5 separate regions of the Homo sapiens genome follow, and all the other regions are linked to region 4. The links come from fine-mapping of genetic effects on gene expression. A gene starts in region 4. Each other region holds a variant in brackets. All regions are shown on one strand. Distances are from middle to middle.

Evidence for each region. PIP is the estimated chance that this variant, and not a neighbour inherited with it, causes the effect.
Region 1: its variant is fine-mapped to the expression of MIOS-DT in thyroid (GTEx, PIP above 0.99).
Region 2: its variant is fine-mapped to the expression of MIOS-DT in esophagus mucosa (GTEx, PIP 0.95).
Region 3: its variant is fine-mapped to the expression of MIOS-DT in tibial artery (GTEx, PIP above 0.99).
Region 5: its variant is fine-mapped to the expression of MIOS-DT in tibial nerve (GTEx, PIP above 0.99).

What each region holds. Positions count from the first base shown.
Region 1 is chr7:7,638,481-7,643,587 of GRCh38, forward strand. It overlaps RPA3 (replication protein A3), which reads right to left. Exons shown (of 8, transcript NM_002947.5): 5 at 1,840-2,695; 6 at 590-664. The coding sequence starts at 1,938. UMAD1 (UBAP1-MVB12-associated (UMA) domain containing 1) reads left to right here and starts at 2,272. Exons shown (of 4, transcript NM_001302348.2): 1 at 2,272-2,341. RefSeq lists enhancers at 1,453-1,502, 1,873-1,922, 2,193-2,392, 2,433-2,482, 2,563-2,732 and a silencer at 1,963-2,092. The variant A/G (reference allele first, on the strand shown) is at 3,020.
Region 2 is chr7:7,384,462-7,389,568 of GRCh38, forward strand. The region is part of intron 27 of COL28A1 (collagen type XXVIII alpha 1 chain); the gene reads right to left. Among named protein-coding and RNA genes, the nearest start is that of LINC03016, 130 kb to the left of the region's middle. The variant G/A (reference allele first, on the strand shown) is at 2,812.
Region 3 is chr7:7,600,600-7,605,706 of GRCh38, forward strand. All of the region lies in intron 11 of MIOS (meiosis regulator for oocyte development), which reads left to right. Among named protein-coding and RNA genes, the nearest start is that of MIOS, 36 kb to the left of the region's middle. The variant G/A (reference allele first, on the strand shown) is at 2,290.
Region 4 is chr7:7,563,208-7,568,314 of GRCh38, forward strand. MIOS-DT (MIOS divergent transcript) reads right to left here and starts at 2,858. Exons shown (of 5, transcript NR_110084.1): 1 at 2,707-2,858; 2 at 1,030-1,117. MIOS (meiosis regulator for oocyte development) reads left to right here and starts at 3,677. Exons shown (of 13, transcript NM_019005.4): 1 at 3,677-3,865; 2 at 4,400-4,481; 3 at 4,819-4,916. RefSeq lists a silencer at 3,498-4,147 and an enhancer at 4,398-4,467.
Region 5 is chr7:7,611,114-7,616,220 of GRCh38, forward strand. No RefSeq gene overlaps it. Among named protein-coding and RNA genes, the nearest start is that of UMAD1, 27 kb to the right of the region's middle. The variant G/C (reference allele first, on the strand shown) is at 2,233.

The sequences.
Region 1 (5,107 bases), 75 kb after region 4:
TTGCTTGAGACCGAGAGTTCAAGACCAGCCTGAGGAACATAGGGAGATGCCATCTTTACAAAAAACAAAACAAAACAAAACAAAACAAAACAAAACAAAAATTAGCCAGGCATGGTTAAGCATGCCTGTAGTCCCAGCTACTGGGGAGGCTGACATGGGAGCAACTTGATCTTGGGAGGCTAAGGCTGCAGTGCGCCATGATGGTGCCACTGCATTCCACCCGGGGTAACAGAGTGAGACCCTGTCTCAAAACAAAAAAACAAAAACGAAACAAAAAACCTCTTGAGGAAGAAAAAAGCAACGTAAATTTTTCTTATGTGATTTTATGGTCTTTCATAAGGAATGAGAATTGTTATCCAACATTTATGGGATATGTTCAAAAATCATGACGCCCAAAAAATCATTGGTTAAAAATGTAAAAGGAAATATAATGAGAGAATAGTACAAGAATTAAATTTTACAGCCAGGGACGTTTTACCAGCTCATCCTTTTTAAATCCATTGCAAAAATTAGAAACATCGGCAACAAACCAAATCAAGATGAAGAATTAACTATAATATATAAGAGACTTATTAACACTTAAACATACGGGTTCCATCAACTCGATGGTTCCATTTTTTCCTTCTCCATCTGAAAGAATAAACATTTTTCCGGTGGGATGAATCTAAAAACGAAACATATAATTAAAATCTCACTAAAACAACAACAAAGTTTGACTAAAGATGAGTACATTGATCCTTAGTTGAGCACAAATCAACTGTTTCTTGAACAGTTTATTCATTCAGTTTATTCAACTTATTGGATCAAATTATAATCTTATGTTATCAAATCTGTTCATGGAACACACAGTTAATTTCTGAATTTCAGATAAACAAGGATTTTTTTTGTAGTGTTAAGTAGGTTCTGTATTTGCTAAATATGGCAACCCTATTCTGATAACAAATTAAAGGATGCCCACCCTAAAAGTGAAATCTGCTGGCACTCATGATTTAGACAGTACATATCCCACGGAGGGTATGTTTTAAAAAACAGGCATGATGAAGTAAAAGGAGAACTGGTTGCTAGAATATCTGGGTCCTACTCCTGGGAAGCAGCTGTAAAGAGCGCTGTCAGATTGCGTTTGAATGCCAGCTTTGCCATTTGCCGAGTTTCTGAGCATTTTAGTCAACCACCTACCACTCCTACTCAGTTTCCCTACTTGGGAAGTCAGAGCAACACTCATTTAAGGAAGAGGATGTGTGGATGAAATGAGCTACTAAATAAGTCTTTATATAATAGTTTTCTTTTCCTCAGCTTTTCAGGTCACTGATTCCAAGACTTTGGGCCTGTTTCTCGCCTGTAGAATGAGGGAACTTCACTTTAATACTGGGGTTAAATAACTCGTTACTACGGGACCCAAAGCGGACAACCAAGGCATGTTTTACAGAGAAGCGATCACAACGAGGAAACGAGGTTTGCAAAAATAAGTAATTTCAGAAGAGAAGGAAACCAGCAGATTAGTTTTGTCTGCGTCCGTCACGTCTGAGTAAACTAAGAAATCTGAAGGTAGATGTGGGAGTGGTGTTTATAATTTCCCTTACGTAAGCACGGCTAGAACGGAGGCGACGGGCACTGGAATTTAGAACTCAGCATTTGAAAACACTTTGTTTCCGTGCCATAAAAGAGCGCCAAAATGGGGCTACAACGGCTAAAGAATTTCCAAAAAGTTCCTTGTGCAAAATAAAGGAGTCGGGGGCGCAGTGATCGGAGGCTTTCCGTCCTTTTTCATCCCCCGTTATCCAGGCGGGGTCCCTCCCTCCAGCTACGGACTTGGGAGCCCATGATTGCGAACCCGCACACCTTTTCCAGCCTCCCTACGAAGCAGACAGGCTTGTCGATGAATTGAGCTAGCATGCCGGCGTTGATGCGCGACCTGGGCAAGTCCATCATGTCCACCATGATTATGGTCCAAGACTGCGGCTGGCGGGAAACCCACGGACGACTGAAACTGTGCGCCCCGCGGGTGTCTATGGGGCAGATTTCTCGGCACCAATCAGCGAAGACTAGCGCTCCAGCTTCGCCAATTAAATGCGCGGAAACCTAAATCGCAATCGCGCTGTCTCTGAAAGGGGTGGAGAAGGGGCTGGATGAGTCCGGAAGTGGAGATTGGCTGCTTAGTGACGCGCGGCGTCCCGGAAGTTGACAGATACAGGGCGAGAGGCAGTGGAGGCGGGACTTGGATAGGGGCGGAACCTGAGACTACCTTTCTGCGATCACAGGATTCCCGGCGGTGACTTGACCCCGGAAGTGGGGTGTGAAGCTCCGGTGCTGGTGCGGCGGGGGACTGCGGGGCCAGCCTCAGGTACCTCGTCTCGCGGGAGGCGCCGCAACCTTACTGTTTCCCCATTCTTCCCGCGAACAGAGTCAAAAGAGCTAGGCGGGAGTCGGCACTAGCTGCTGCCGCGGTGCTGTGGGTGCTGCGTACCAGCTGTTCACTGCTGTCTCGCCTTCCCTCTTGCCAGTTCTGCGTGGGAGGCGCGGGAGTTTTGCGGAATGATACGTGGTGTGGCGTCGGGGTTGTGATACCCGCCCCCTTGGAGATGGGCAGCGGGGTCATCAGTGATCTTGATCACTTTCTTCAGGCTTTTGCCACTTGTTGGCTGAGGGTCGATTTACTCCCTTAGCTGCGTCACTCTACTTTCTCCACTTTCTCCACCTGTAAGAAGAGAGATTGATCCGATTACTTCTAAGACGTTTTTTAGCCCAACCTGGCCACACTGCGGAGGCGCCGGTTCTTTCACCCCGCTAACCCCTCCGTGTTGGCAGCCAATAGAAGCACTTAAGGATGGGTAACGGGGAAGAACCACTGGCCAGTACTAGGGGAGACAAGCTTAAATCGTTGTTAGACCCCGAGCTAGGGTTCCCCGAGCTAGGGTTCTCCCTTCTGAGGCGTGTTTTCCCCATCTGCAAAACGAAGGGTTAGGCGGAATGATTTGCAAGGTCCCAGTTGACTCTGACTTTTGGCCATATGTTTGACTCA[A/G]CAGTTTAAACCCCCTCAGCAGTCTTTCTGTCGTTGCCCTCCACACTGCGAGACTCTGGAGGGCGATCTGGAGGTCTGGAAGATAACCGATTCCTGGGAGATTTGGGGGTAGTCTCCAATCTGTCCCTGGCTCATCTTGTGACCCGAAGCCGGCGGCCTTGCCAGGAGTATTCTAGAATGAGTGCACATAAAAATACCTTCAAACGGTACGGTGGAAATTGGACAGAAGTTTTAATTGGGTATTATAACGTTGTGGAAACTGAGTCTGTGAATTGGCCCAAAGCTACAGAATTGTCATCGTTCAAATTCCCTTAAGCAAAAAAGATCCGATTTGAGACTTCACGTGGCAATTTAAGATTGGAATCTCATGTACGATAATTAAATGATAGTCTCCCTTAGTGTTTCCTTAGCACTTAATAGGTTTGTCTTAGTTTTACTCACTAACGGTACTTTAAAGGATTTCATTAAACAGATGTAGAATGTGTGTCAGTGGTGTATAAAAAAGTTGTGGTTGTATTGGTGCAAGTCAGTAAAGTCTATTTTATATTACAGCTTTAAGTCTTTTGTACTTTAGCATTGTTTTGCAAAGCAAGTTGATGTGCATTATATAGGGGAGAGTACACACATCAATGTCTTTAATAGCATTTTTTTTTGAGGCAAGATCTCTCTCTGTCACCCAGACTGGAGTGCAGTAGCATGCACATAGCTCACTGCAGCCTTTAACTCGTAGGCTTAAGCGATCCTCTCACCTCAGCCTGCCAAGTAGCTGGGACTATAAGCACATACCACCACACCCAGCTAATAAAGATTTTTTTTTTGTTGTTTGTTTTTTTTTGTTCAGATGGGGCCTCGCCATGTTGACCAGGCTTATCTCAAACTCCTGGGCTCAGGCGATCCCTCCCTCCCCCGTCTCCCTCCCAAAGTACTGGAATTACAGGTGTGAGCCTTGGTGCGTACCCTGTAATAGTGATTTTTTTTTTTTTTAAAGAGCACTCCTGTGAGTACCAGATGTTAATGTCGTTGTTTACCTGCAGTTAGAAAGACCACTTTTAAGCAAAGGCTTTCTTTTAAAACAGGGAGATGAGCAGGAAGATAATTTAAAACAGCTTTTTCGTGTATTTTTGAGTCACTTAAAATATTATAAAATACATGATGTACAGAAAAAAGTATAGCTAGCCGATTTGCATAGTTTTGAGAGAAATGAAATGAATCCATGGGGCCTGTCATTCAGCTGAAGAAATGGAACTTTACCAGTTACCAGTAAATTTTACCAGTTTGCACTTCCCCAATGAAGCCCTCCTTGCTACAGCCATAAGTAAACACTATCTTGAAATTTGTGTTAAGCTTCCTAAGCTTTTCTAGGTGGTTTTATCACACATGCAGGCGTTGCTAAATGGTATGTTGTTTAATATTGCCAGTCTTTGACCTTTATATAAACAGAAACGTATGTATCTTCTGACTTCTTTTGTTTGTTTTTGAGATTCATCTATGTTGACGAATGTACGTAGATCATATTTTTTTTTCTGTTACAGGTAGGCATGAGTGGGACAGTAGTGGGCTCTCCCCCAACCCACTAGAAATGTTGGGGGATGGTTTGGCAATTACCGAATTTGCTTCTCTAAAAATGATAATTCTGCAGCGCCAGGGAGAGGCCATTTCCTGATGGTCCACACCTGTTATCAAAATGTTAATTGAATGTAGACCCGAGGGAGAAACAGCTTCCTGGGCATGCATATTAAGAGACAAAAATGGTAAAGTATGATCTTCCAGGTACACTCCACCGGAAAAAGGAAGGAAGCCTCAGATGGGCGTGCATGTAACTCCCTAAAAACACTTCCCAAGGCTAAGGAGGGCTCTGTGCCTGCCGGCAGCCTATCCTAAGGAAAGAATCATGGGAAATAGACAAGCTTGTAAAAGTCCTAGGATCAGGGCCGGGCGCGGTGGCTCACGCCTGTAATCCCAGCACTTTGGGAGGCTGAAGCGGGTGGATCACCTCAGATCAGAAGTTCAAGACCACCCTGGTCAACATGGTGAAACCCTGTCTCTACTAAATATACAAAAAAGTATCCAGGCGCGATGGCGGGGGCC
Region 2 (5,107 bases), 180 kb before region 4:
GAGTATAGTACAGTAAGATATTTTGAGAGAGACCACATTCACATAACTTTGATGACAGTATATTGCTTATAGTTGTTCTATTTTATTATGTGTTTGTTAATCTCCTACTGTGCCTAATTTTAAATTAGGCCTTATTATAGGTATGTGTATATAGAAAAAACATAGCATATTTAGGGTTTGGTAGTATCCAAGGTTTCAAGCATCCACTGGGAATATCGGAACATATCTCCTGCAGATAAGGAGGGACTACTGTAATCTTTTCCCACCAGGAAACTTGATATCATTGGGAGCCCCAGAACCCTGGATAGGAATTTGTACCAGTTAAATAAACCCTAAACATTAAACTGACACTGGCATTCCAAGATGAAAATTCAATCAAAAAAAAGGAGAGGAGAAAAATTTGTCCTGTTTCCAAAGATGGCACTCCCAACATAGGTGTCATGAAGATGAATAGGTGGGAAAGTGTAGATAACACAGAACAGCCTCATGAGGCTCCCTGCAAAACATGCTCTAATAGGAGTGGATCTGCAGCCTGCTTCTGAACATGAAGGTTAGTGGGGTCTGCCTACATACAGACTAGCAGCCAGCCCCCAGAGTGATATGCAGGACTGCAGGCAGCTACCTGCCTGAGGTTATACCATCTTCTTCTGTTCAAATCAAAAGGAAAACAAACGCAAATAGTATAGGAACGATATCTCTTAAGAAAGATGTCTTGGTAAATCACACTTTGGTATAAATTTGTTTTCTCAGATTTTTTGTGGAGGTGAATGAGGACATTTTCATTCAATGAGGTACCTGGTAGAAGGTTTGGGTTGCAAGGGAGATGCGTCAGACCGCTGTACCTAAGTTAGGGGGTACAGTTGGCCAGGGATAAGACAGACTAAAGGCTCATGGGAGAACACTAAGAGGAAATCCATGGTTGGCTTTGTCTCAGCCTGAAAGGACAGAACAGTGTGATAAACAGAGGAGCTGAGACTGTGGTGTGATGGTGAATTATCGCTAGGAGTTATATGTTTAGACAAAGTGAATCCAGAAAGAATGCCATACCTTTCTGACAATTACTCAGAATAATTATTTCTTTTGCAATATTTCAGATTCCTCCAGAAGATGTCCAATACATGTTCATGACTAACTAGCTGCCTTTAAGAAATGACACAATTTCCTAATATAGCTAAAACCTACTGTTGTAAGGGGAAGCATGACACGTGCCTGAGGGAAAAAACATTAGAGTAGCAAATTATCTTGTTAGGGTAATGTTCAGGAACTTCTTTTGCATTACTTCACAATGTAAGTATTTTCTATATAACTGTTAACACTATAGATATTCCAGGCAGCTAGATTTCCCTATAATAAAGGCAATTCATTTTCTTTTTAATCACTAGTTTCCCTTCAAAATACTTAAAGGCTTCCTATAACTTTCAGAGTAGACTATCTAGCTAAAAGCCTTTAGCAAGTAAATCCATGTCTGATCTTGGCAGAGGTGAATGCTATCCAATCAGACTTTTCAATGTATAAGTCTCAGGAAAATGATAAACAATGATTTGAGTGTGGGTCAGAAACAACTGCAGGAAACAACCTATTTTATTGGAAGCTATAATTAAATCTAAATTTCAAACCCTGGTTAATCACTATATCACCACATTAGATGGGTCCTGATAAAGAAGTGATCATTTTCATTTTTCAGATGACTGCTTGTTCTCTGGGAGAGAAATTTCTAAGAATAATGCACATCTACCTGAATGTTTCCATTGATTTATTTGTGCATTACTGATACGTCAGGAAACAATGATTTTTCTTTCGAAATGTTTTCTCAGTAAGGTGTGGTAAGAAAAAAATCAAATTTATAGATGATCATAAAATGTAAAATGGACATCTGGCTTCTGCCAGTGTGTAGAAAAGTGGAAAAAAATGCTACTCTCATTCTTAAAGCCCCAACAACAAAAAATGAGAACTAATCTGTGAAGTCACAGCTTTTCTTGAATCCATCATAGAGCTGTGGTTGCAGGGCATCCCGCCAATTCAGCATCTAAGGAAAGTCAAGATCCTTCAAGGAGACACAGGCTTGGAAATTCACCTACCTGGTGGAGGTGCCACATGTTATACAAGCTGGTGAGAATTTAGCTAAAATTTTTAACAGGATGCTAAAGGCTGAGTGTGGGATAGCAGGAGGGGATAGGACCCCTGGGAGCTGCAGGCACAAGAGAAAATCACAGCTACTCACAGACTCTTCTCAGGGACTTTGCTGGTGCTCAAGAGAAAGACTGGGGCCAGGACTAGGGTCAGGAGTAGGCTTCCCTTGTGGTGCTAGCCTGGGAAGGGAAGCACAGGTCCCACAGGTCGCAGTCTGTTTGTGCTGCTATAACAAAATACCATAGACTGGGTGGCTTATAAACAACAGCAGATTATCTCTCACAGTTCTGGAGGCTAGAAAGCCCACGATCAAGGAATTGGCAAATTCAGTGTCTGGTGAGGGTCCATTTCCTGGTTCATAGGTGGCACCTTCTTGCCGTGTCCTCACATGGTGGAAGGGACAAGACAGCTCCCTGGGGCCTCCTTTATAAGGGTGCTAATCCCATTCCTGAGGACAGAGGTGACCTAATCACCACCCCAAGGCCCCACTTCCTAACGCCATCGACTTGGGGGTTAAAATTTCAACATATGAATGTGGGGACCATATGAATTTTCAGACCACATTCTGTTTCCTTTTGAAGGAAACAGAATAAACCTTGCAAGAATGAATCCTGGGCCCAGATCTTTAGAGATGCCCTACTATTTGTGGAGGGTCAGGAAACCACGCCCAGACCATTAGAT[G/A]CCTCCTCGTACGGGTTTGCTGGAACACATAAAACTGCATACTAAAAAGAGTAAATTTTACTGCATATAAATAATCCTTTACTAAAGAATAAAACAATACTTTAAAAAGTTAAAAAGAATTAGATAAACACTTGGCAAAATTTAAATGAGTTCTATAGATTAAATAGTATTATATCAATAATTTTCTGATGTTTATTATTGTACTGTGTTATATAAGAGAATGTGCTTGTTTGTAGCAAAAATACTGATGTATTAGGAGTAAATGGGTACCAAATCTGAATTTTACTCTCAAGCGTTGCAGAAAAATAATATGACACAGACATATATATATATATGCAAAGTGATATAGCAAATGTGGTAATATTAACATTTATAGAATCTGGGTAAAGGATATATAAAAATTCTTTGTATTATCTTTGCAACTTTTTTTGCAAGTCTGAAATTATTTCAAAATAAAAGTTAAACATTAATACATAAAATGAATGCATGAATAAACGTACCAAGTGGTTGCAAAAAGATGTCAGCTATCACTGCTGCAGCGGCTAAAGCATATGAGTATACAGGTACTTTGCCTACTCAAAGTTTGGGAGCCCAAAGGCTAAAAGAAAATCAAAAGACCTAAAACAAAGCTGCAGGTGTGGATTTCTCCCTACGCAGAAACAGCTTCTGCTGTTTGAATTCAGGAGGCTTCTACTGTTACCAGAAGCCTCTATACTTCCCTAGGATTTGTATTCATACCAATTTCAGTTCAATTTTTTTAAATTATAATTTCTGGGGTACATGTGCAGAACATGGTTTGTTACATAGGTATGCATGTGTCACGGTGGTTAGCTGAACCCATCAACCCATCATCTACGTTAGACATTTCTCCTAATGCTATCCCTCCCCTAGCCCCCCACCCCATGACAGGCCTTGGTGTGTGATGTTCCCCTCCCTGTACCCATGTGTTCTCATTTTTCAACTCCCAGTTATGAGTGAGAACATGCAGTGTTCAGTTTCCTGTTCTTATGTTAGTTTGCTAAGAATGATGGTTTCCAGCTTCATCCATGTCTCTGCAAAGGACATGAACTCATCCTTTTTTATGGCTGCATAGTATTCCATGGTGTATATTGCCACTTTTCTTTATCCAGTCCATCATTAACGGGCATTTGGGTTGGTTCCATGCCTTTGCTATTGTGAACAGCGCCGCGATAAACATGTGGGTGCATGTGTCTTTATAGAATGATTTATAATCCCTTGGGTATATACCCAGTAATGGGATTGCTGGGTCAAATGGTATTTCTGGTTCTAGATCCTTGAGGAATCGCCACACTGTCTTCCACATGGTTGAACTAATTTACACTCCCACCAACACTGTAAAAGCATTCCTATTTCTCCACATCCTCTCCAGCATCTGTAGTTTTCTGACTTTTTAATGATCGCCATTCTAACTGGTGTGAGATGGTATCTCATTGTGGTTTTGATTGGCATTTCTCTAATGACAGTGATGATGAGCTTTTTTTCACGTTTGCTGACTACATATATGTCTTCTTTTGAGAAGTGTCTGTTCATATCCTTCACCCACTTTTTGATGGGGTTGTTTTTTTCTTGTAAATTTAAGTTCTTTGTAGATTCTGGATATTAGCCCTTTGTCAGATGGATAGATAGCAAAAATTTTCTCCCATTCTGTAGGTTGCCTGTTCACTCTGATGATAGTTTCTTTTGCTGTGCAGAAGCTCTTTAGTTTATTAGATCCCATTTGTCAATTTTGGCTTTGGTCGCCATTGCTTTTGGTATTTTAGTCATGAAGCCTTTGCCCATGCCTATGTCCTGAATGGTATTGCCTAGGTTTTCTTCTAGGGTTTTTTTTTAAGGTTTTAGGTCTTACTTAAGTCTTTAATCCATCTTGAGTTAATTTTTGTATAAAGTGTAAGGAAGGGGTCCAGTTTCATTTTCTGCATATGACTAGCCAGTTTTCCCAACACCATTTATTAAATAGGAAATCCTTTCCTCATTGCTTGTTTTTGTCAGGTTTGTCAAAGACCAGATGGTTGTAGATGTATAGTGTTATTTCTGAGGCTTCTGTTCTGTTCCACTGGTCAACATATCTGTTTTGGTACCAATACCATGCTGTTTGGGTTACTGTAGCCTCATTGTATAGTTTGAAGTCAGGTAGCGTAATCCCTCCAGCTTTGTCCTTTTTGCTTAAGATTGTCTTGGTTATGTGAGCTCTTTTTTGATTCCATAAGATATTTAAAGTAGATTTTTCTAAATCTGTGATGGAAGTCAATAGTAGCTTGATAGGGATTGCATTGAA
Region 3 (5,107 bases), 37 kb after region 4:
TCCCACACAATAATAATGGGAGACTTTAACACCCCACTGTCAACATTAGACAGATCAACGAGGCAGAAAGTGAACAAGGATATCCAGGAATTGAACTCCGCTCTGCACCAAGCGGACCTAATAGACATCTACAGAACTCTCCACCCCAAATCAACAGCATATACATTCTTTTCAGCACCACACCACACCTTTTCCAAAATTGACCACATAGTTGGAAGTAAAGCACTCCTCAGCAAATGTAAAAGAACAGAAATTATAACAAACTGTCTCTCAGACCACAGTGCAATCAAACTAGAACTCAGGATTAAGACATTCACTCCAAACCGCTCAACTACATGGAAACTGAACAACGTGCTCCTGAATGACTACTGGGTACATAACGAAATGAAGGCAGAAATAAAGATGTTCTTTGAAACCAACGAGAACAAAGACACAACATACCAGAATCTCTGGGACACATTCAAAGCAGTGTTTAGAGGGAAATTTATAGCACTAAATGCCCACGAGAGTAAGCAGGAAAGATCTAAAATTGACACCCTAACATCACAATTGAAAGAACTAGAGAAGCAAGAGCAAACACATTGAAAAGCTAGCAAAAGGCAAGAAATAACTAAGATCAGAGCAGAACTGAAGGAAATAGAGACACAAAAGACCCTTCAAAAAATCAATGAATCCAGGAGCTGGTTTTTTTTTTGAAAAGATCAACAAAATTGATAGACTGCTAGCAAGACTAATAAAGAAGAAAAGAGAGAAAAATCAAATAGACGCAATAAAAAATGACAAAGGGGATATCACCACCGATCCCACAGAAATACAAACTACCATCAGAGAATACCATAAACACCTCTATGCAAATAAACTAGAAAATCTAGAAGAAATGGATAAATTCCTGGACACATACACCCTCCCAAGACTAAACCAGGAAGAAGTTGAATCTCTGAATAGACCAATAACAGGATCTGAAATTGAGGCAATCCTTAATAGCTTACCAACCAAAAAAAGTCCAGGACCAGATGGATTCACAGCCGAACTCTACCAGAGGTACAAGGAGGAGCTGGTACCATTCCTTCTGAAACTATTCCAATCAATAGAAAAAGAGGGAATCCTCCCCAACTCATTTTATGAGGCCAGCATCATCCTGATACCAAAGACTGGCAGAGACACAACAAAAAAAGAGAATTTTAGGCCAATATCCTTGATGAACATTGATGCAAAAATCCTCAATAAAATACTGGCAAACCAAATCCAGCAACACATCAAAAAGCTTATCCACCATGATCAAGTGGGCTTCATCCCTGGGATGCAAGGCTGGTTCAACATACGAAAATCAATAAATGTAATCCAGCACATAAACAGAACCAAAGACAAAAACCACATGATTATCTCAATAGATGCAGAAAAGGCCTTTGACAAAATTCAACAACCCTTCATGCTAAAAACTCTCAATAAATTAGGTATTGATGGGATGTATCACGAAATAATAAGAGCTATCTATGACACACCCACAGCCAATATCATACTGAATGGACAAAAAACTGGAAGCATTCCCTTTGAAAACTGGCACAAGACAGGGATGCCCTCTCTCACCACTCCTATTCAACATAGTGTTGGAAGTTCTGGCCAGGGCAATCAGACAGGAGAAGGAAATAAAGGGCATTCATTTAGGAAAAGAGGAAGTCAAATTGTCCCTGTTTGCAGATGACATGATTGTATACCTAGAAATCCCCATTGTCTCAGCCCAAAATCTCCTTAAGCTGATAAGCAACTTCAGCAAAGTCTCAGGATACAAAATCAATGTGCAGAAATCACAAGCATTCTTATACACCAATAACAGACAAACAGAGAGCCAAATCATGAGTGAACTCCCATTCACAATTGCTTCAAAGAGAATAAAATACCTAGGAATCCAACTTACAAGGGATGTGAAGGACCTCTTCAAGGAGAACTACAAACTACTGCTCAAGGAAATAAAAGAGGATACAAACAAATGGAAGAACATTCCATGCTCATGGGTGGGAAGAATCAATATCATGAAAATGGCCATACTGCCCAAGGTAATTTATAGATTCAGTGCCATCCCCATCAAGCTACCAATGACTTTCTTCACAGAATTGAAAAAAACTAAAGTTCATATGGAACCAAAAAAGAGCCCGCATTGCCAAGTCAATCCCAAGCCAAAAGAACAAAGCCGGAGGCATCACACTACCTGACTTCAAACTATACTACAAGGCTACAGTAACCAAAACAGCATGGTACTGGTACCAAAACAGAGATATAGACCAATGGAAC[G/A]GAACAGAGCCCTCAGAAATAATGCCACCTATCTACAACCATCTGATCTTTGACAAACCTGAGAAAAACAAGCAATGGGGAAAGGATTCCCTATTTAATAAATGGTGCTGGGAAAACTGGCTAGCCATATGTAGAAAGCTGAAACTGGATCCCTTCCTTACACCTTATACAAAAATTAATTCAAGATGGATTAAAGACTTAAACGTTAGACCTAAAACCGTAAAAACCCTAGAAGAAAGGCAATACCATTCAGGACATAGGCATGGGCAAGGACTTCATGTCTAAAACACCAAAAGCAATGGCAACAAAAGCCAAAATTGACAAATGGGATCTAATTAAACTAAAGAGCTTCTGCACAGCAAAAGAAACTACCATCAGAGTGAACAGGCAACCTACAAAATGGGAGAAAATTTTTGCAACCTACTCATCTGACAAAGGGCTAATATCCAGAAGCTACAATGAACTGAAACAAATTTACAAGAAAAAAACAACCCCATCAAAAACTGGGCAAAGGATATGAACAGACACTTCTCAAAAGAAGACATTTATGCAGCCAAAAAACACGTGAAAAAATGTTCATCATCACTGGCCATCAGAGAAATGCAAATCAAAACCACAATGAGATACCATCTCACACCAGTTAGAATGGCGATCATTAAAAAGTCAGGAAACAACAGGTGTTGGAGAGGATGTGAAGAAATAGGAACACTTTTACACTGTTGGTGGGACTGTAAACTAGTTCAACCATTGTGGAAGTCAGTGTGGCGATTCCTCAGGGATCTAGAACTAGAAATACCATTTGACCCAGCCATTCTATTACTGGGTATATACCCAAAGGATTATAAATCATGCTGCTATAAAGACACATGCACACGTATGTTTATTGCAGCACTATTCACAATAGCAAAGACTTGGAACCAAGCCAGATATCCAACAATGATAGACTGGATTAAGAAAATGTGGCACATATACACCATGGAATACTATGCAGCCATAAAAAATGATGAGTTCATGTCCTTTGTAGGGACATGGATGAAGCTGGAAACCATCATTCTCAGCAAACTATCGCAAGGACAAAAATCCAAACACCGCATGTTCTCACTGACAGGCGGGAATTGAACAATTTGAGAACACATGGACACAGTAAGGGGAACATTACACATCGGGGACTGTTGTGGGGTGCGGGGAAGGGGGAGGGATAGCATTAGGAGATATACCTAATGCTAAATGACGAGTTAATGGGTGGAGCACACCAACATGGCACATGTATACATATATAACAAACCTGCACGTTGTGCACATGTACCCTAAAACTTTAATAATAATAAAATTTAAAAAAAAATAAAGTGCTGGCTAGTGGCTCGAGTATCTAAACCTCCCTGGTGCTTTGCCTGCAATCAGAGATTGCATCCATCCATCATGCTTTGTGATTCAAATAGCTGGAATTTCTATAAGCTTATTTAACTGAGAGTTGATATTTTTATACTCAATTGTGCTTTGAAGATTAGAAATCTGTTGAAACAGTTCTAACATCATTATAAACATTATAAATATTATTTATTCAACAAATGTTTATTTGGTACCTATTGTTCCAAGTGCTAGAAATGTTACAGTAAAGAAGACAAAAATCGCTGCCCTTACAGAATTTAACTTCTGGACAATGACACATTTTTTAAAAGTTAGATTATCTACTGGTTTCCTTCATTTTCTTCTTACATTATGAGTTAATGCATAAGTGAAACTCTAGTTTCGCCTAAAGTGTTCTGTGGCACTTGTCTTCATAATTCACTATAAATCTTTTAAAATTTGAAGTCATTTGATCTTAAGCCTTTATACTTGGCAGTGAGATAGACCTTAATACTTCCAGTTTCGTCAGAAAAATATAAGGATATGCCTTGTTCTGATTCAGTCTGTTATCTGTTTATGTTAGAAGTTACAAAAACAAAGTGACAAGCACTAATGAGAGCTTTACACAAAGGTGTAAAGTAGTGTACATATCAGATCTATATTTTATTTATCTCTTCCCCCTTTCCTTTTTGCCCTCTCATTATTAATTGTTGGTGACCCTTTCAGGAGTAATTCTAGTGTGTTTACATCTTTAATCATTGAATTACTTACACATCCTTTCACCTCATATCATTAGCAAAAACGGATATTTTTTAAAACTATTCCCGACTGCAAGATTATCCTTTTGGTCATGAAAGCGTGACCTGCAATGGTCCAAGCAAAATTTTTAACATAGTTATCGATGCATAATGTCTTTATAGATAGCAATTAAGTAAAAATATTAAGTCTAATTAAGCAATTGTTTAAGTTACACAAGTCTCATGAAGTGCATTGGGAAACTTTCTGCTTTTTCTCTTCTTTGAAAGGGCTTGTACAGATGAGAATTACCTGTCCCTTGATAGATTTTTTTTTTTTTTTGAGACAAAGTCTTGCTCCATCACCCAGCCTGGAGTGCAGCAGTGCAATCTCGGCTCCCTGCAGCCTCCAATCCCCAGATTTAAGCAATTCTTGTGCCTCAGCCTCCCAAGTAGGTGGGACTACAGGCATGTGTCACCACCCCCGGCCAATTTTTGTATTTTTAACAGAGACGGAGTTTCACCATGTTGGCCAGACTGGTCGTGAACTCCTAGCCTCAAGTGGTCTGCCCGCCTCAGCCTCCCAAAGTGCTGGGATTACAGGCATGAGCCATCACACCCAGCCCTACCTGTTCCTTGAATGTTAAGTAAAATTCACTTGTAAACTGGGCCTGGTATTTTCCTTGTGGAAAGATTTTAAACTACTGATTTGGTCTCTCCAAAGTTTTAAATTTAGA
Region 4 (5,107 bases):
GCTACTCAGGAGGCTGAGGCAGGAGAATCACTTGAACCTGGGAGGCAGTGATTGTGGTGAGTTGAGACTACACCACAGCACTCCAGCCTGGGCGACAGAGCGAGGCTCCATCTCAAAAAAACAACAATAAAAAAATCCTATTAGGAATACAAAAGCTTAAATTAAAAACAAACAAAATACCGAGACTGAACTACAGTGGCCCTAGGATCTATTGTAAAACGCATGTTTAGTAAAGGCAACTAGTGTAATCTCAGACCAGTCTGTCAAGTTCTCTGCTACGGTTTACTGTTTCCAAAGATACAAAGCACTCACTCAACTCAGTAAATATTTTTTGGATACCTATGCAACAGGTGCTAAGGGAAATCCAAAGTTCCATGCTAAAAGATTGCTACCTGCAAGGATCTTGGTTTAGTAGAGAAGGGGAATCAGTTTCCAAAAAGACTGAGAAAGGTGTCACTTATTCCTGTGAGGGGCTTTAGAAGAATTAGTGGCAATATGAAAAAATATATACTTTCACAAAGCTTGAGTGGAAAAGAAAGTTGAAAAAGGGACATTAGCTGGAGGAGGATGTAGAATAAATACGTTGTTTTAGGATTTATTCAATACATTTTTATTTACCACATTTATTAGGTACTGTTTTACATCCTGGTGATTAAGCAGAGAATAAAATAGACAGAGCCCCTCTGTTTTAATTAGGGAATTGGCTAAGCTGCTCTACCAGGTCCAAACAAACAATGATTTTTTAAAGAACAAAGTTTATTTTCTCTTGCATAATGGTCCAGAAGTCTGTGGTTGATCCAAGGGAGGAGGTGCCCCAGCTCCCTGAGATTAGTTTGGGACTTAGGCTAGTGAGAACAGCTTTGCCTTCCTTAATACATGGCTTCCATTTCCAGTCTGTATTTCTTTTTGCCATTTGCCAGACAGCAAGAAGAGGGAAGAGAAAGTGTATAGCAAGCAGCTTTCCTTTTAAGGGACATGATCCAGTTCTACTCACATCTTACAGGACATAACTTTTTGATATAGCCTTACCTTGCTGAAAGGGAGGCCAAGGAATGTCATGTCTAAGTAGGTCACCAAGTGCCCTGCTCAAATTTGAATGTAGAGTTATTTCCTCTTACTAAAAAGAAAAAAAATACAGAATGAAAACTGGAGATAAGGAGAAGACACAGTCTAGAAGATAACTATAGGAAAGTAAAGAGATGGCGACGTATGTGAAGTTGTGGTGTCATAAAGACAACAACAAAGGAGCTAATTTATAGGTAGTCAGTGACAAGTGAGCAGTCTTGAGTAAAGGGAGAGTATGAGTCATGTAGATTTCTGCATTCCAGACAGAGGGAATAGCTAGTGAAGAAGCCCTGAGGCAAGAGCATGCTTGTCATGTTTAAGGAACAGTGAAGTCACAGGGATAAAAGACAAACCAGAAGAAAGTGATGATATGCAACAAAGTGAATGAGACATGTCAAGAGAGGAAGTAGTCAAGAACAACAGAAGTTGCAAGAGTGAAGCTTTGGCCATTGAAACTGGCAGCATGGAGCTCACAGGTGACCTTGACAAGTGGCAGTTTCGTGGCATGGTGGGCATGAAGGACTGAATGGAGTGAATTCAAGGGAGAGAGGGGGAAGTGGAATTACAGAGAGCAAATATGATCCTCTCCTTTGAAGAGAAAATGGGAATAACTTGAGTATGTGTTGAAAGTAAAGAACCAGTAGAAATGGAGAGGCAAAGATACATGGAAGTGAAGTAATTGATGGTGCAAGGTCCCAGAAGAGGAGATATACATGGGGTTCCTCCTCTTACTCTTTGTCACCTAAAAGAAGGTAAGAATGGTAGTGAATCAAGATGTTGGAGGAGGGAAGGAGGAAGCAGTGGGAGGTTGTGCAAATTCTAGCTAATAGTTTTAATTTTCTTTTCTGAAGTAGGAGGCAGTGTCATCTCCTGAGTGCAAGCAGAAAAGTTGTCCTCAACTATGTATAGTAGGAGTGGATAAGGAAGAGATTTGTATTGATCTGAGGTTTTGTGTGGGGGTTTGAGGCCAGGGTCAAAACCACTGAGAAGATTGGCAAGATAGTGTTTGAAGTGATGAATACTGTCATGTCTCCTCTCAGTAATACAGCACTTTCTTCAGCCTACATTCTTCTAATGGCAGGATTGGAAAGGCAATACTTTCCCCAAACTCATCATCTTATCAAAACCATCTGCCACCAAGATCATCAGGACTAAGCTCATTATGCTGTTTACAGCCATCACCACCACAAGCCCAAGACCACCCACTTTTAATCATGAACAGACAAGCAAAGACTGTCAGACATCTGAAGACTGCCTCGAGGTCAGACTCGTGACACCTGAGGCAGCACCATTCACTCAGTTTTGGGAACAAAAAACTTGGAATCCTCTTTCACCGTCATTCACTTGGTCAGTCACCAAGCTCTGTTCATCCCGCCTTCTAAGTATTCCCCAGGGCCCCCACTTCTCTCCATGCCCACTCTCCGTGCCACTGGTAACCTGCGTTTCTATCATCCCTCATTCTGATACTCTATCCCTCCAGCTCTCTGCGCAAAAACTGATCATACTGGCCGGGCACAGTGGCTCATGCCTGTAATCCCAGCACTTTGGGAGACCGAGGTGGGCGCATCACGAGGTCAAGAAATGAGACCACCCTCGCCAACATGGTGAAACCCCATCTCTCCTAAAAATACAAAAAATTACCTGGGCGTGGTGGCGCGCGCCTGTAGTCCCAGCTACTCGAGGTGCTGAGGCAGGAGAATCGCTTGAACCCGGGAGGCGGAGGTTGCAGTGAGGAGAGATCGCGCCATTGCATTCCAGCCTGGCGATATAGCCAGACTCCGTCTCAAAAAAAACAAAACAAAACAAAAAACTGATCATACCACTTGCCTGATTAAAAACTTTCGATGACTCTAACATTGCCTTTAGGTAAATGCCATCCAAACTCACTAAACTGGTTTCCAACCCGTTTCTGAAAGCACCTTAATCTCTCCCCACTTCCTCTGCTCATTCATCCATACCTACTGCCTCCTCACTGCTATGTCCTCTCTCCTGACCCGGCACTTGCTCTTTCCCAGTCCTAGAAGGCTCTTCTCTTCCAGTTCCCACTGCCCTTTTCCCTTTCCTGGCTAATCCCATACTCATCCTTCTTGTCTCAACCTAGTGGTCCTTAAGGAAGCTTTGCTGACCCCCGACACCGAGCGGGCGTCCCTCCTGTGTAGCACTGTGTTAGCCCTACCAAGTCAAGGCTCTCCTTGCCTGTTTCCTGCCGGAACCATGTCTTTTTACTTCACTCCTGTCTCCTCAGCATTCCAGCACAGTGCTGGGTACATAACAGGTGCTCAAGACAAGTTTGTGGAATGACTAATGAGTGAATAAATCATTAACCAAACACCTTGGATCTCCTACTACATCATTTGCAAAAAAAAAAAAATGTTTAATAGAAATTAAAATGGACCCAGTGAGCTAGAGTGTGTGACCCTGCTTAAAAACGACAGAGTGGTTCTGAGAAGCAGTCCCAGCCTAGGAACCCGGGGATCCGGCCTGTGGACCCACGGGCAGGGCCTGCGGGGTGCACCGGCGCTTTCGGGCGGAAGGCGGGGCCTCCCGGCCAGTGACCCCGCCCCGAGGCGCCTCCCGGGCGGGGAAGGGCGGGGCTCGCGCTGGGAAACTCCCCTTCCAAGGCCGAGGCGCCGCTGCGCGTCCTCCAGGCGTGGTGGTGGGGTCGTGGGTCCCAGCCCAGTGGTCCAGGTCACGGGCCGCACGGCCGCGGCCGCCATCTTGCCCGCGTCCGGGCTCCTGCGGCGGGCGGGGCGGTGTCCCGGCCGGAAGCGGCTGTGCGGCGGCCGCGCTGCCACCTCAGGTCAGTGAGCGCGACCCGGTTCGCGTCTCGACTCTCGGGAGCGCCGCGGCCGCAGCGAGGGGCCGGAGATAGCCTAGTTGAAAGGCCCGGGCGTCTCGGCGGGGAGCGCGTTCCGCGCTGTAGGGTAATCGCGCCGGGCGGCCGGCCGCCTGGCCGGGCCTCAGCGGGAGCCACCGGGGGCTGCGGGCGGCCGTGGGACCTGCGGAGACCTCCTCGGGGCGCAGGGAACACGCTACAGCCTTCGCCGCGGCGGGCTTGTGGGGAGCGGCGTCCCAGCCTTTCCCGGGAGGCTCAGCCAGGTGCCTGGAGCGGGAGAGTCGGACTCAGATTCCTGCTTTACCTAGAATAGCAACGTGCCCTGTTCCCGTTGTACCCTCTTAAATACTATACTTCTTAAACGGCCTGTCTCCCGGTGAGCTCTGTTCTCTTCTCATATGAGTAATGAAAATTAAGAGGATGAATGAAACCTCACACATGTTGTGGACTTTGCTGAATAGGTTAGCAAATGACTGCAGGCCTTTTGTATATTTTAAGGGAAATTTGGATATGTGCAGTGCATCTCCTCGAAGATGCTGATGGTGGAAATTTCTTGAAACCGCTCTCGTAATTTGCCACGGTAAGAAAAGTAAAAGACAACATCAAAAAGCATGTGGTTGGATCCTTTGTACACTGAGTAGTATTTTAATGTGTTGGACTTCACTGTCCAGTAGCCACATGGGATTGAGATGTGCTATAAGTGTAAAATACACATCGGATTTCCCAGAGTTGGTGCCAAAAAAACGTAAAAATCCTCAATAATTTTTGCATTGATTACATATTGAAAGGATAATGCTGTTGATATGTTGGCTAAATAAAATGTGTTTTTAAATTTCATTCCACCTAATTTTACTTTTTAAATGTGGCTACTAGAAATTTTTAAATCATATGGCTCACACTGTATTTCTTTTGGACAGTGCTGTTGCAAATATTCTGGTGAATGAACACAGAATCAGCATGGCTTTCCTTTGCTGAGAAATCACTGATGGGAAGTGAGACTTGTTAAACTTGAAAGGTGAGGATATAAATACAAGCTGTAATTATTGCAGACCGCACCCCTTCTACACCTAATTTTTTAATGTCTCCAAAATTTGGAAAAAACATTAACTTTCAGGGCTGATTAAGGGAATGGTAGTAATACTAACATCTGTGTGATGTGAAGAGCTCATTTCAGTTGATTGTCACAGCTTTGTGAGATGGAAATGG
Region 5 (5,107 bases), 48 kb after region 4:
CTGTTTTACTGTCTCATACATCATGATGCCTATTAGAGAAATACTAGAATCCTTCTCACTATAGACAGGAATAAGAAGTGGATGCTGTTGTCACTGGTTCTGCACATGGCAATGAAAAAGAAGAAAGCGAAAGGCACACCTTTGCTTCTTTTCCAAGTCATCAAAATTTGATATGGCAAAAATCATAGTTACAAGGCAAACAAATTGATAAACTACAACATTTATGACAAATTGCCTTAATTCAGAAAGGACATTTTCAAAGCCGAGGAAAAAACAATCAGTAGATAATATCAATCAAAGACTTGTGCAAGCAAAATAGAACTGCTGACAAATAAATGCTAAATCAGTAACATGCTGATTAAAAAGTAGAATACTGTTCGCCTGACTGCATAGATTTAAAATAATAGGCATTTTCATGGATGTGGGAAGGAAACATTCTGAGATAACAGCTTATGAGAGTTTAAGTCTTGAGGACAGGTAAACTGTATTAATCAGAAGCCGTAAAGAGTTTCATACCCTTTGACATAGTATGCTGGGAATATTTTCTGAGGGATTGATTGCATAAGTGCACAAAGATGTATATTTTTATGATACGGTTCTACACAGTATTGTTTATAATAAAAACTTGGAAACCTAAATGTCCAATAATAGAAAAGAATAAATTATTGTATATACATACAGTGGGTTACTAAGAAATGATTCAATTAGTATAGATATTTTCATTGACAAAGGTTTCTTAATATATTGGTAAGTGAAAGGGAAGTTTTAGGATAGTATATCTAGCATATAAATATATTTGTTTGGGATATGGTTAATACAGAAACTTTAACAGTGGCCATCTTTAAAGAGTGGAATTTTGAGTAACATTTTCTTCATATCTATCTTTCATTTTTCCCAATAATAATGAATATATAAATGTACATGCATCTCTCTGTCTCACTCTGTCTCTCGCGCACACACACACATACACACCATATATGTATATACTGGCTTTTAGAAAAGTTATCCATGACCTTGTATCTTGTTATTAAACACAGTGAAACAATCATATGTTAGGATTTATTCTATGCGGTGAAAAAACAGGCTACAAGATGTTATGAAAATTTGGATTGAGATCTAATTGTTCAGAAAGCATTTTCTAGATTTCTTACTCTACACTAGTAATATACAAGAATAACAAGATATAGTCCTCTCAATTCTTCATTACATTTGGAAGTAGTGCATTATGTTCTCCACTTAGCGTATTGGGAAATGAATATGTAAAATAATTCTGATTTCCCTGAGCTTAGTGGTACATGATTAATAACTTCATTTCAATATTTTTTCTCCTATATCTTCGTCATGAGATTTCCTGACTCCTCTTTTTTGGCTCTGGGTCTGTGGTGGGAAAGCTGTCCTCCTCTATGTACTGAATTTATGTGATTATTGTCCAGTCTAATCTGGCATGCACTTTGCTCAATTCATTTCCAATAATAGCAGGTTATTTAGGTTTAAGTGATGAATTCTGAACATGCCTGTGTGTCTTTGCTTCACCAAAACACAGAACCATACCTACGTGTGCTGGACAGTGTTAAAGGTTCTGATGTTAAAGGATTGATGGCACCATAGTTGCCTTGGAGGAGTTGTATGTCTAATGGAAGAGGCAGATCCAGGCATAGTTTTCAGCAGATTCAAATCTATTAAGCTTAATATTTACAACTGCTATAGCATTTGCATAAAATGAGTATCATTTTAGCATCTCTGCAAGCCAGAAAATGTCTATTTGATTTTCTCATTTTGGACTTTAAAAATTATTTTCCAATTAAAAATAATTTGAGGAAATAGAGATTTCCATAACGTTTTTCAAAAATGTAATTTTCTTACTCATCTACTAATGGCACAGTGTTTTAAAATGCTTTGCTAAAAAGGCAGCTTTAGGATTAAAGGATAATTTATGTAATGTTAGAAACAGCAGCAATAATAATTCAGTAGAGACTTTCATCATTCAATTTATGAAAAGCATATTGCCTTAACATAATTTCTTAACTGGAAATTTAGATGCAGGAATCAAATTAGTCTCTTAAAATATAAAGTCACAAAGACAAGTCTGGAGGAGCATTTGAAGGGATTAATGTCTCACAGCTTGAAACATATATGTAAGAATTCATGCAAACTATTTATCTTACATCTTTTTATTTAAAGAATTTTAGCTCCATCTACACATAAGAAAGCCTGGAGTTTGAAATAATAGTT[G/C]TCCAAATTCATGCTTATCCAGATTTATATCACATTGCAGCCACATATTTTGCTGATGATAGTTAAATAAGAAGTTGCTACTGTAAAATGTAAAGCTAAGTATCCTTTTTAGCACCATGTATTATTTCATAGTAAAAATTGGAATGTTACAATATTCCTGTGGTGTTATGTCAAAAAAATATTTTCATCGTCAATTTGAAAACTTTTATTATGCATTAAGTAGGTATACTTAATATTTGAACAACTATGGATGTGTATCTTTATGGTACATAAATGTTCCCAAAATAGATGAAGATGTGTATTTATGAAGCAAACATATTCAGCGATGTGACAAATGTGAGAGAAGTATCTCTTGATAAAGTAATACTTCTTTAAAAATTAATATGTTTTATCATTTCAAATCTTCTGATCTTTTTCTTCCATTCTTCAAAAATGGAATGTATGGTCACTTGTCACTCTTAGTACAGATTAGCATTTTTAAACATAGACGGCTTTCTGAAATACATTAAATGCTTTTTGGAAAATTGAGTGTAACTCTTTGAATGAATGCTAAGATACTGTTGGCTTCCAAAAGAGAATACTCCAGACAGGGTACATTTTTTCTCTTTTTCTACTGGAAGAACCAGACACAATTTAGAGACAAGTAAGCTGAGGACAGATTTTCAAGGTCATCTGGGAACAACTACTCTTTTAGAAACATTGTATTGTTTTTTAATATATTTTATTGAATTTTGTTACTTCTGTCTTCAGAAAATGTTATATGAATACAGAAAATGTATGTTCCCTGTGGGGACCTGGGAAATTAAAAACGTGTATCATCCTGATAAAACATATCTCATGGGAAAAATTGGCCAAAACAGTTAGTTACTCAGTATATCTCCAGGTTTGCATCTTCTACTTCTTATGTATTCATTTAGAGTCCTCTTCCAGTGTGTGGACCTCTGCAGATTCTAGATAACTTTTCAAATATGCTAGATTTTGAGCTGTATATTTTTTCTCAAGCAGAGACATCTGCGCATAGTGAAAATCAATTCTCAGAGACCAAAATTGCCAAGCATACGTGACGGAACTGTAGGGAAAAAGGGCATAACTTTAATCTTCAAAGAAGCTTAAAAATAGCTCCACAGTTATTATGCATGAGGCCTGACAATTGACATTTCTCATTTTGGCAGCATTCACCTACAGCACCCTATCAGCAACTGAACACATTCATCTCTGGAATAAATGATTAATGAGCTGCCTATCATTTCCACTCCTTTTGTACCAAGTGGTGGAGGCTTCAGTTGATCATATTGCAGCCATCAACATCATTACTGAAATTGATTCTGCCACTAGAGGGTTGTGCTAGGATCATCAATTAGCATTTAAATTAAAAAGTTATGGCATTAAAAATAACAAAAAAATAATCCCTTCTGAGTCACTCTGTCAGACCTGGTAAGGTGATTTTGTTTTTTTGCTCATCAGACAGCATCACAAAACCTTAGATTGAGGAAGGAAGCATGGAAGGATTGTTTTTGTTTCAAGAACAACCCTCTAAGATTTCCAAACTTTTTATTAATCACTGTCATGTTCCTTGAAATGCAGATTTATGAAATGCTACAATTTGCATTCAATAGTGACCAATGAAGTTGCCAAATTATTTCCTTCAGACAAAAAGTCAAAGGATAGAGTTAGGCATTTTTGAAAGGTCAGAATTTATCCAGAAAGGGGGAAGTTAGAGGAAGGAGATTTACAAATGATACTGAGATACAGCAAAATAAAGTTTTTCTTATATTTCAGCAGGCAGATGTGAGAATGAAGTGAAAAGAACATCATCATTTAGATGTCGGGATGATGTGGGCTGCATTTCTAAAACAGATGGCAGATAATGTGGGTCTCCATAGTCCTACAAAAAAGTGACAGATTGTAGTTTTGGTAAAATGATACATCAAGGAAAATGAATGGTACTTGGAATAGGTATTTTAGCATCTCTTTCTGCTCCTGGGACCAAGTTCCTCAAGTTCTCAATATTACTGAGCTTAAACTCCTTCCTCATCTATGTTCATCTTCCAGCATGGCTTTCTCCTATTTCCTCATTGTTTCCTCTCTCTTCCCCTGTTGAATTTCAAATTCAAATATAAACAGTTGGTTTTGGTTTTATCTGCCTCTGAATTAAGACACTACCTTTACTACATTGTATTGGTCACCCAATTGAAGTGCATGTGCATTTTCTTCAGAGCTGAGACGCATTGATTATACAACAAAATGGAGCTATCATAGGTCCTCAATCCAGCTGCTCTGTCCTATACTTGATTAATATTCTTTCCACAATCTGTTGGTAGTGGTATTGTGACTTTTCATTTCTGTCTTTGTGAAATTTTAAGAAGAAGCTAACAAAGGCTGCTTTGAGGACTGCTAAGTAGAGGACATTTTTACCTAACATTGATTAATGTAGATAGCTGAGACTTACTTGTATTTTGAAAAATGGGAAGAAAATGGTCATGGTAAGAAGCACTGGGTGATAAGAAAAACACATAGTAACAAGATTTCTACATGTGAGCCAATAGCAAACTTCCTCTATGTGTTAAAATTCTCCAATGAGAAATACAGCAACTCGTTTCAGACACCATGAGATGGACAGGTTAGGCCAAGTTGTGCTTGACCTAGTGGTGAATGACCACACACTTCTTTACCTTTGGCACAAGTGGTTCATCAATCTCCCACTTTCCCTCAGATCCTTTTTCAGCGTAGTATTCTAGGCACCAACTGCCAACTGGCCAGTGTTCACCTGTTTGTCATTTTCAGCTTAACTACCAATTTGGACAATTGGAGAGGTATTCGAACCGGATGGTAAAGCTGAAATTAGATCTCAAGTCTCTTCACTGAAGTCTAGTAC